Regions from separate parts of the Homo sapiens genome. Here region 2 is linked to region 1. The links come from fine-mapping of genetic effects on plasma protein levels. A gene starts in region 1. The other region holds a variant in brackets. All regions are shown on one strand. Distances are between the middles of the regions.

Evidence for each region. PIP is the posterior inclusion probability: the model's chance that the variant is causal. Protein levels are from antibody-based Olink assays in UK Biobank. Linkage for the fine-mapping came from a reference panel and not from the study's own genotypes, which makes the PIPs less certain.
Region 2: its variant is fine-mapped to the plasma level of the CFI protein (UK Biobank, PIP above 0.99).

Annotation. Positions count from the first base shown.
Region 1 is chr4:109,799,594-109,804,978 of GRCh38, forward strand. It overlaps CFI (complement factor I), which reads right to left and starts at 2,406. Exons shown (of 13, transcript NM_000204.5): 1 at 2,322-2,406. The coding sequence starts at 2,378. It overlaps LOC124900757 (a long non-coding RNA gene), which reads left to right and starts at 4,079. Exons shown (of 2, transcript XR_007058226.1): 1 at 4,079-4,242.
Region 2 is chr4:109,734,789-109,740,173 of GRCh38, forward strand. It overlaps a transcript of CFI not described here. Among named protein-coding and RNA genes, the nearest start is that of PLA2G12A, 7.4 kb to the left of the region's middle. The variant T/C (reference allele first, on the strand shown) is at 3,123.

The DNA.
Region 1 (5,385 bases):
TAGTGGTTGGTTTACAACAGTATTATAAGTGATAGGGTGATAGAAGTGTGGTAAGTGATTAGGATAATATTCTGCATAGTAAGAGAAACAGTTTGTATTTTTAGAAGAAAATTGCTTTAACATTTGCAAACTAAGGTAATGAGAATACAGTGAATTTCAAAATGTCTTTTTAATGACAATGTGTGAACTTGTTTTAATAAACCAAAATTTGTTGTTATTGTGTTAAGGCTATTTTATGTACTCAGATATCCTTCAAGACCACTGCCAAATTAGGGAGGGTATGGGGCAAGGACACAAAGGACAGACACGCAAAATGCTACTAAGCTTTCATACCATTTTTAGTTGCCTGTTCCTGCATTCAACATTTTCTTAGGTGCTATAAACCTTTGACTGTTTTCCAGAGTTCTAAATAAAGTTGGTTCTGACAGCTTCCCTTTGGTTTCTGTAGAAATGGATTTTTGGTTTTTGGTTTTGGTGGATCTGCCTACTCTGCCATTTCCGCTGCCATCACTTGCACTGCACACCCTCCTGTGTGCCACCCTTGTTTCCAGGATGTTGTCATTCTGCTTAACATTACCCCAGTTCTTTCTCTCTAAAATGCCACCCATATGTGCCTGAGTTTGTAATAAAATTTTAGGGTAAAATAAAATTTAGGGTATCAGTTGGTGATTACGTCACAGCACAATTATGGTAGGTAATCATGTTGACTGAAATATTTGGCTTCTCTGTTTTTTTTTTTTTTTTTTTTTTTTTTTTGAGACAGGATCTTGCTGTGTCACCCAGGCTGGAATACAGTGGCATGATCAGAGCTCCCCGCAGCCTCAAACTCCTGGGCTCAAGCAATCCTCTTGCCTCAGCCTCCCAAAGTACTGGGATTACATGCGTGAACCCCCACACCTAGTCAGCTTCCTTGTTGTTGAACATCCTCTGGTTATTCCCCCCATTAGAAGGCCCCAGCAGCCACTCCCACTGTGCTATGGGTTTCTTTTCCATCTTTTCTGAATCCCCTAGTTTCCTTGTCTGAGTAGGTTCAGTAAAACCGAAAACAGAAAATAGAATCACCAGTAATCTTATTAGCCAATGATAGCAACTATTAACTGTTTGATACATACACTGTAAGATCTTTTAGTCATATATATAAGTAGGTATAAGTATGCATTTATATATATGCATATAAACACACATACATATGTGTGTGTGTGTTTTTCTTCAATAAAAATAAAATTGTAGTAAGGACTTTTTATTTAGATAAATATGTCATTTCAATGGCTATGTAATAGTTCAATTTTGGATATACAATAATTTAACCAGTGTCTTATTAATAAGCATTTAGTTATTTCCATTTATTCTCTATTATAAACATTGCAATGATGGCAACTATTTTAGAAGTTACAAGAATCTTAAAGTGTGTTTTCTTAAGTAGTTTTCTTTAAATATTTTCTTCTACAAGCTGGCACTAAGACAAGATAGTTTTGGATTGCCACCAAAGTTGGCAATCATCAATAAGTATCCAAAATATTTTAAACATTTTTCACCTTAATAGATGACACTCTAACTTCAATAAAATATGTCATTTCAGTTTCGAGTTCCTTTGTAGCCCACAAAGCCTTCATTCTGATCAAATGGATTCATTTATTTGGAGGGGCCTAGTGCATTGCTGCCTTCCTATGGTAGCACTTGCTGCTTTTCCTGGCTAAAGAAGCTGGAAATCACTCCTCTTTCTCACCACTGATCACATGTAATACAGAATTAAACGTTCAGCTCAAATCCTACTTGATCTATAATCTCTTCATGACCTCTCAGCATGAAGTGATTTGTCCTCTCATTGAAGTCCTTTACCACATATTTGTATCACTTTTGACAATTAAATATATACTGTCTTGTAACTTGCACTTTTGTGTTTTCAGATGTTTCAAATTTGCTTATTATTTCCCCTTTCTATAACTATAGAGCGTACTAAGAGGCTGTTGAAGGAAGAGATCAGTCTCACTGTCTTCGTAGCACTGTACCTTACACACAGGAGGAGCCTGGTAAATATTTTTGATTTACTACAATTACAGTAAATCACAGCCTTGTATTAGTAAAATTCTTGTTCAGTTCAATGCCTCTGCATATATAAGCACATAAAAAGAACTATTTTTAAAAAATCACTTTTATCAAGATATTAACATAAAACATTTGTTGCTGACTATAGAGTGGCATTGTTGTAACTGAACTATGTAATATTTAAATCAAAATTATATATTTAAGATTATTTTCTATGTTTTTACAACCTTTAAATTATCAATTAAAATTGTTTGCATAAAGGTTGAATTACTTACCTTGCAAAACCTTAAGTGGAAGCACAGAAATAACAGGAAAACATGAAGAAGCTTCATGTTGGAGGTGTTCGGGGTCTTTGTCTCTGCTGAGAACTCTTTTCCACTCCAGGTATTCTTTTGAAATTTAATTTTTAACCTCTGAAAAAATGTTTCAAAAGAACAAACCTCCTAAAGAGCTTTGTACTTTTGAACTCTGAAAGAATTTGGCTGAAATCCAGAGAGATTTACCGTAACTGAAACCAAAAAATGGCCTTCCCATTAAAGAGCTGAGGGAGGTGACCAATAGGAACTTGTTTCCACCAGAAGAGACTGATTTCCTCCCACCCTGTTAATTGCAATGACTCAATTCTGTATTCCAGGGAAGACAGAAATTATATTGGAAGCAATTTTTTGGTTTTTTTTTTGTACAGTAAAAATATAATTTTTTAAACTTAAGGTTGAAGACTAGGAGACAGTAAGAATAAAAGTAGACCATATAGTGAAGGCTGCAAAATACATTTAAAACTCTAGAAACCAGCTTCTTTACCATGCATTTGTTGTGCTGTGATCAAATTGTATTTTTGGAGTACAAGAAATTTTAAAAACAAGTATTCTTGTGCCAGTACCAACTATCATGCAGGGTTTATCTATTTATGAAATAAATCTGTGATAGCAGAAATGCTGACACAGTTGGGTTCATCAGAAGCAGACTTGAGACAGTGAGTGTGGGGCACAAGTGTTTGTTAGGGATCGATATCCATACAAGGAAGGGAGGGGAAGCAGGGGTGAACAGAGGTAGAAGTTGAACTGGAGTGAGTGTGACCTGTCACAGTGCCCCTGATTTCAGTATAAATGGCTGGGCCATTATATTCTGCCTTGCTTGGTCCCCTACTATATATTGCCCAGGAAGGGCATACACTTAGGTGAGACAGTTTTCTGTAGCTAAGGCAGACACAGAAGGATCTGACAGTTATGTGCTATCAGGAGGAGGTATCTTCTGACTACACTCTTTACAGCCAGGTAGCAAGACCTTCCTTGACAAGGGTTCTGGGAAACTCATCTCTGTGTCTTTCAGAGTACATACTTGCACCTCTTAGATCTATGTTCCATATACACTCCAGGAGTGGCTCCTTAAACATTTCAGTGGGTCCCTATTCTTGAGAGAAAACTTAGAAGAGGAAGTTAATGGGAAAAACTACAGCTCCTACCCTTGCAGTTGATCTTGGGGCTGTAGTTGAAACTTACCCTTGGCCCCCTTCCTATCCATTTTAGATTCCCTTTACCTTGACCTCCCACCTCTGCTGGTCTCGGTGACTTACTGGATGACATGTCCCACACTCTCTTTCAGGAGTGGTCTGAGCCCCTGGTTACCTTTTGTTTCTCAGGCAAAAGTTGCCATTTTTATCCCTACTGTCACAAGAGGCAGGCTGGACATGGTGGCTCACTCCTGTAATCCCAGCACTTTGGGAGGTCAAGGCAGGAGGATTGCTTGAGGCCAGGAGTTTGAGATGAGCCTGGGCAACACAGGGAGAGGTTGAGGCTGCAGTTAGCCATGATTGCACCACTGCACTCTAGCCTAAGTGACAAAGAGAGACCCTCTCTTAAAAAAGAAACCAAAAAAAGCAAAAAATAAGAGGTACCCCAGTAGGTTATGTGGGTTCTACACATCTTCCTCCCTGCCCACATTATAGTAATAGCAGCCCTACTTCCTCGGAATGATCAGGGCCAATTACCCTTGTGGATTCTGACTCTTTCTTGCTAGTTCCTAGACACAAAGAGCCCAGCGTACCCCAGGCAACAGCTCTGGTTTATAATTCCATGGGACTCTTGCTTGCCCCTGGTGAAAGTATAGTCCTTTGGAGACCAAGATAACGAACCCTGCAGAGTCTACAACTGTGGAGACAAGATGCACAAAGCCCCCAGTTGGTCAATGGTGGTGATGGTAAGTGTGGTAATTCTTGCCTTTATTCCTTGGTTCCCAGACCCAGGTATTCTTCCTATTGGGAACATAATGCTATATGAAAGTCTTTGATTGAATGTATATACTGCTTCCTGGAGGATAGCACCCCATTCTCACAAAGTTTTGCATTTAACTGGCACCTCAGCTCTGTCCTCAGCAGCCCATTATAACATTCTGTAAGTCCACCAGCTTCTGAGTGGTGTGGTATGTGATATGACCAGGGGATTGCATGATCACAGGCCCACTCCTGGGCCTGCTTTGCTGTAAAGTGGGCACCCTTGTCTGGCAGGATGTGATCTTTGCTAGATAATTAAGCACTCTATAATTCTCTGGATTATGGTGCTAATGGAGGCCCTGCAGGCAAGAAAGGCACACTCATACCTCAAATATGTCTATTCCTGTAAGAATAGACCACTGACCCTCCAAAGAGTGAAAGAATCAGATGTAATTAATTTGCCACTAAGTGACTAGTTGGTCTCCTTGAGGAATTGTGCCATCTTGTGGGGACAGTATTAGTGTCAGCTGCTGTCAGGTTGGGCATTTGTTAATGATGGGAGCTAGATAAGCCTCGGGGTCTGTGCTATTGGCCTCATGGGTGGCCTCTATCTCTGTTACCACGGTCACTTCATTCTTGTGCCCATCGTGCCAGCAGTGGGGTGGCTGATGACTGAGACTCAGTCATTTTGGCTCAATCGTTTTGTTGAGCCAAACTGGTTGAGCCATTTTGTTGGTTATTTAGTGCCTTTTCTTTGGTGGATGCTTTCTAGTAGGCATTAACATGTGATACAAAGATTTTTTTTCCTTTTTCTTTTTTCTCTCTCTCTTTTTTTTTTTTTTTTCTGAGACAGTGTCTCGCTCTGTCACCCAGGTTAGAGTGCAGTGGCGTGATCTCGGCTCACTGCAAGCTCCGACTCCCGGGTTCATGCCATTCTCCTGCCTCAGCCTCCTGAGTAGCTGGGACTACAGGCGCCCGCCATGACGCCCGGCTAATGTTTTGTATTTTTAGTAGAGATGAGGTTTCACTGTGTTAGCCAGGATGGTCTTGATCTCCTGACCTTGTGATCTACCTGCCTCGGCCTCCCAAAGTGCTGGGATTACAGGCGTGAGCCACCGTGCCTGGCCATG
Region 2 (5,385 bases), 65 kb before region 1:
GCAACAGTCTGTCTAAGAAAAAAGAAAAGAAAAGAAATGCAATTACAGTGAATATCAAAATAAATTATGAAAATATAAAATATACTATATTTGTGCTTATTCTTGTCTGAATGATATATTAATAAATACCTTGGAATGGGAGATTCTGGGTGGCCAAGACTGGCTTTCTTTTCTTTTCTTTTTTCAGAGACAGAGTCTCATTCTGTCACCCAGGTGGGGGTAGCATGATCATAGCTCACTGTACCCTCGAACTCTTGGGCTTAAGCAATCCTCCTACTTCAGCCTCCTGAGTAGCTAGGAATACAGGTGTACACAACTGTGACTGGCTAATTTTTGTTATTGTTATTATAGAGATGGGGTCTCCCTGTGTTGCCCAGGCTGGTCTTGAATTCTTGGGCTCAAGTGATCCTCCTGCTTTGGCCTCCCAAAGTGCTGGAATTACAGTCATGAGCCACCGCACCCAGCCCTACACTATATTTTCTATATAGAACTTCCCAGAACAATAATCAGGATAGGCAGTCAGATCTCAGATCTCTTCTAGAAACACCAAATGGTTTCTTCTATATATATGAGCATCATGGAAAAACATGGTAGTATTGATGAGATGAGAATGCAAAATTTGTGGGGTTTAACGTACCACATTAACTTAGAATGCTTGGAAACTACAATATTACACAATGCTTTGTGTTATTTTAAATAACAAAAATCAATAAAATATTAATGATAAACAGCAATTTCTATTTTTTAGTATTTTCCAATGTCTCACTAATGGCCTCAGCAGTGTTGTGATGAAAATAAAAGCCACGTGGTGAAAACAGTTCCAGCCATAATGGTTAATTTTTGTCCAGGATGAAAATAAAAGCCACATGGTGAAGCAATTCCATCCATAATGATTAATCTATGGCTAGTGCCAATGTCGCGGGAATCAGGCGGATGAGAGAGACTTCGGGGTAAAGCAGGAGGATCTTTATTGAGTGTACTCAGACTTACATCTGGAAAACTGGGCCTAGAACAAAGACAGCACTTGACTTTTATACACACTTCAAAAAGGGAGTGGGCTAGCTTGAAGCAGGCTTACAGTTACAGTGGTGTGAAAGCAAGGATACAGAGGCAGAGCAATTAATCAAATTGTGACAGGTTCATAACTCAGGATTACACATGACCGTTGCTGTGCAACCCAGATGTCAGTTATCTAGGTTTTCCTTTAGTGCCTAGCACAGCTTATTCCATGACCTTCACTATGGCGTCCAGGTGGCTGTATCTCAGGCCTGCTCAGACAGTTTATGACCTTCACTCCACTACTTAGATAAAACAGAATGCTTGAAGTTGCTAGTTACAGAGAACAGAAATCTATAAACTCATACTATAAGAGAAAGGAAAATTTGTTTTTCTTCTCCTTATGTTGAGGGAGTGCTGGGAGAGTCTCCAGAGCACATTCCTTTGTGTCCTAGCTTCTTAGATAGTGTTTATCAAGACTCTTTTTCCTGGGTCTGGGCCTTGCCTGCTACTGCCTTTGGGATGAGTCAGCCTAATACAGGAAAGCTTACTTCTTTCTCTTTTTAATTTTATTTTTCTTTATTTCTTTAATTTCCCACCGCACCAAGGCTAGAAGTTTCATCTCTAAAAGGGAACTTAAGTTAAAGAGAAATAAGTACTAGGTTCCAGCCTTTGGCTAGAAAGTCAATGGCATTAATAGCTTTCAAGCTGGGACAAAGTGAAGGGCAAGAGATGGCTGCACCAGATCTATGAGCATGGGCTTGTTCCATAATATGTTGAAGACAATGATCCTCTGCTTGGGTATGGTGGGGGGTCTACCATCAAGAAAATTTGATCAAAAAGATATTTTCAAGGTATCTTTGTATGCACAATGTAAGATTGCTTGGCACACAGGAGGGATGGAAAGAACCCACTTAGTTGAGACTGCAGGGTTTTAAGCCATCAGGACAGAGTCCGTATGTAGTTCTTCTAATTAGGGTTCCTGGCTACTTCCAAACCTCTGGTTGATTTTCAGCTTCGTATTTCCTATCACGTACTGTACACCTTCACTGGGCTTCCTTAGACATCACAACTTCAAAATATCCCTAACTGTCTAAATCTGATTCCATTCCTCTACTTCCTTCCTTTCTGTACTCAGTGGCAACACCAATCACCTCACCATCTAAGAGACTGGGAATTATCCTAGTCTCAAATCCCTCTCCCTAGTACTGTAATCTATTTGTCCCCAAATGCCATCTATTTCACTCAACATATCTAGAGTCAGTGCCATCCTTTTTATCCCTGCTTTAGTTTCTACCTTCATTATTTTTCATTTGATTACTCCAAGAGTGTCTTAACCATCTTCCATACCCTCTCTCACCCACTTCCAATACATCTTCCTTGCTGTCTCCAGCTTGAACTTCCTAGAATCCTTTAATGGTCCAAACTCTTTGGTATGAGGCTCTCCCTGGTATGGCCTTTCCCCCTCTCCAGCTCCTTAGCTGCACCCTGGGCTCCAGTCACTATGAACTGCTCTCCATCCTTGTGTGTGGTTAGCTCCTCACACTGCAGGGCCTTTGCATTTGTATCTGCCTGGAAAGTTCTTCCATAATTCAGACTAAGCTCACCTCTGCAGAAGCCCTCTTTAATATGTCAGGCTGGTTTCTAGATCTCCCTTTAGTTTTCCTTACCATTGTACCTGGCAAGGTGCAGCCGCATAATTTATTTTCCCATTTCTCTTGTAAGACAGAGAGCTCTGAAACCAGGGTTAAATATAAGACGATGGCAGAGCTCCACATCCAATGAGTTGTGTCCCTGGCCACCTTCAGGCGAGCTCACAGAAGCAGCAATGTCCAGTGCCCAGGCTCTGCAGTACAAGCTGTACGTGGAGACTGGGACCCATGCTAGTGGCCATGGTAGTCTCTGATGGAGCAGTCCTGCAGTGTGGTCTGTGAGCGTTATTTCCAGATGTGTAGACTCCAATTCTCTGGCTCTTTTGGAAATTCTGTGAACTGCATAATATCTTTGAATAAATCTATTTTTTCATTAAACCAGTTAGATTGGCTTCTGTAGTCTGGAATTAGGAGCGCTGAGACAGACCTCTAAACTAGGAGAAGCTTGGAGTCAGGTCATCTCACTCCTGCTGT[T/C]CCTGGTCTCTGTCACATAGAGTCGCTTCAGAGGGCTGACTTTCACCCTTCAAGGCTTGACCCTGGTCTACTTTTCTGTGAAGCTGCCAGATGCTAGGTCACTGTGCAGACTGGCTTGGCCCTTTTGGGGGCCCCCTTCCTAGATTGGCTGAGGATGCCCTATATGCTGGGTTTCCCACCTTGTAGCACTGGAGTACTTTTCTTTTTTTTTTTTTTTTTTTTAAGACGAGGTCTTGATCTGTCACCCAGGCTGGAGTGCAGTGCTGCAATCACAGCTCACTGCATCCTCAACCTCCTGGGCTCAAATGATCCTCCCACCTCAGCCTTCCAAGTAGCAGGGGCTGCAGATGTGCACCACCACTCCCAGCTTTTTTTGTGTGTGATAGAGATGGGGTCTTGCTATGTTGCCCAGGCTGGTCTCAAACTTCTGACCTCAAATGATCCACCAACTTTGGTCTCCCAAAGTGCTGAGATTACAGGTATGATCCACTGCGCCCAGCCACTTTTCTCTTTTTATCTCATACACAGACATATTCTAAGGTGCTGCGTTGCTCCCGGATTGCTGAGTCAGGACAAGGTGGTTTTCAAATATGTCCATAAATTCTTTGATACACCTCCTCCCTGCCGCCATCAAGAGATGGGTTATTTCCTTTCCTTTGAGCCTGGGCAGGTCTTTGTGATGCTAAGGGACTTCCAAAGCTGGGTTAGAGAAGGCCATGCAGGTTCTGCAGTTTCTCTTGGGAGGCTCATCGGCTGCTATGTAGGAAGTCTGGTGCCCCCGGCCCTGCCATGTTAAGAGCCCATGGGGAGAGTGCAGAGAGACATATCTGAGAAGCCCCAGCTGTCTAAGTCCGCCCAGCCCAGGCACCAAACACATGAGTGAATAAGCCTTCGTGATAACTCTGGTCCAATCCTGTCTGACGGCAACAGCATGAGAGACTGGAAGGGGAACTTCCCAGCAATAAATAACCAAATACTTTCCTGAATTTAATGGATGAAAAATCTGGGCAGCATGGGAGGGAGGAGTGGTGAGTTATTGTTTAATAGATATGAAGTTTCAATTTGGGGAGATGAAAATTTTCTGCAGATGGATGGTGATAATGATTGTACAACAATGGGCATGTATTTAATGTCACTCAACTTTACACTTACAAATAGTTAAAATTGTTACTTTTATGTTATACATATTTTACCACAATTTTTAAAAGAAAATCTGGGCAGTAACTGATTTTGGAATATATGTAAAAATGGGTATTTATATTATTAAATCAGTAGGGATCTATCCAAGACTGGCCCTAAATAAAATAATAAAGGGAATATTTATGTGAAACATATATGTCTGTCTTCAGGATAAAGATAGCTGTGCTTAAAAAAAAAAAAAAGAGTAGCTAATGTTTATTCACTGAGCAGCCTCTATGAGGCAAGTGGTAGGGATGTAGCCAGAAGGAAGACAAATGAGGTCTCTCTTGTCATGTGTCTTATGTTGTAGTTGGAGGAGACAGTGTTGAGAAGAGGTAGACAACCCAATCAAAACAGAATACACTGGGGGAAGAAAAGTACTATGCTGAGATTAAAGTAGGTGGTGTGACAGAGGGAGACTGGGCACCTACAATAGCCTTGGGGTCGGGTGGGGGTGCTATTTTCTGTAGGTTAAGAAAGTGCAACTGTTGAGTTTGGGTTGACCACTTTTCTTTTGAAATGTTACTAGATATTCACATGGCAATGGTATATACTAGTGTTCAGTGGCATATACTAATCTGAGGTTCTAGGAAAGGTCAGAGCTGAAGATCCAGATTTGTGAGTCACCGGACTGTAGGCAGGATTTAAAACGTAGTCTAGATGAGATTACCAGGGAAAGGCAAAGTGAGAGAAGCAACCAGAAGGAAGAGGCTGAGAACAGCAGTGAGGGAGGAGTGTGATGCCCTGAGGGGCTAATGCTGCTGCGATGAGAACAGAAGTGACTGTGAGGTCTGACACCATGGAGGTAGGTGGTTGTATTGAATTATCTGTGGATAGGTTTAGAGAGAGGGTCAAGGAATGCTTGTGAAATGGGGGAGCAAAGGCTAATTTTTCAAGAAATGTTAATACTTAAAGAAGCAGGGGCCTGGTGTGGTGGCTCACGCATGTTATCCCAGCACTTTGGGAGGCCAAGGTGGGAGGATCCCTTGAGCCTAGGAGTTCAAGACCAGCCTGGGCATCAAAGCAAGATGCCTCTCTACAAAAATTTAAAATTAGCTAGGCATGGTAGTGTGCACCTGTAATC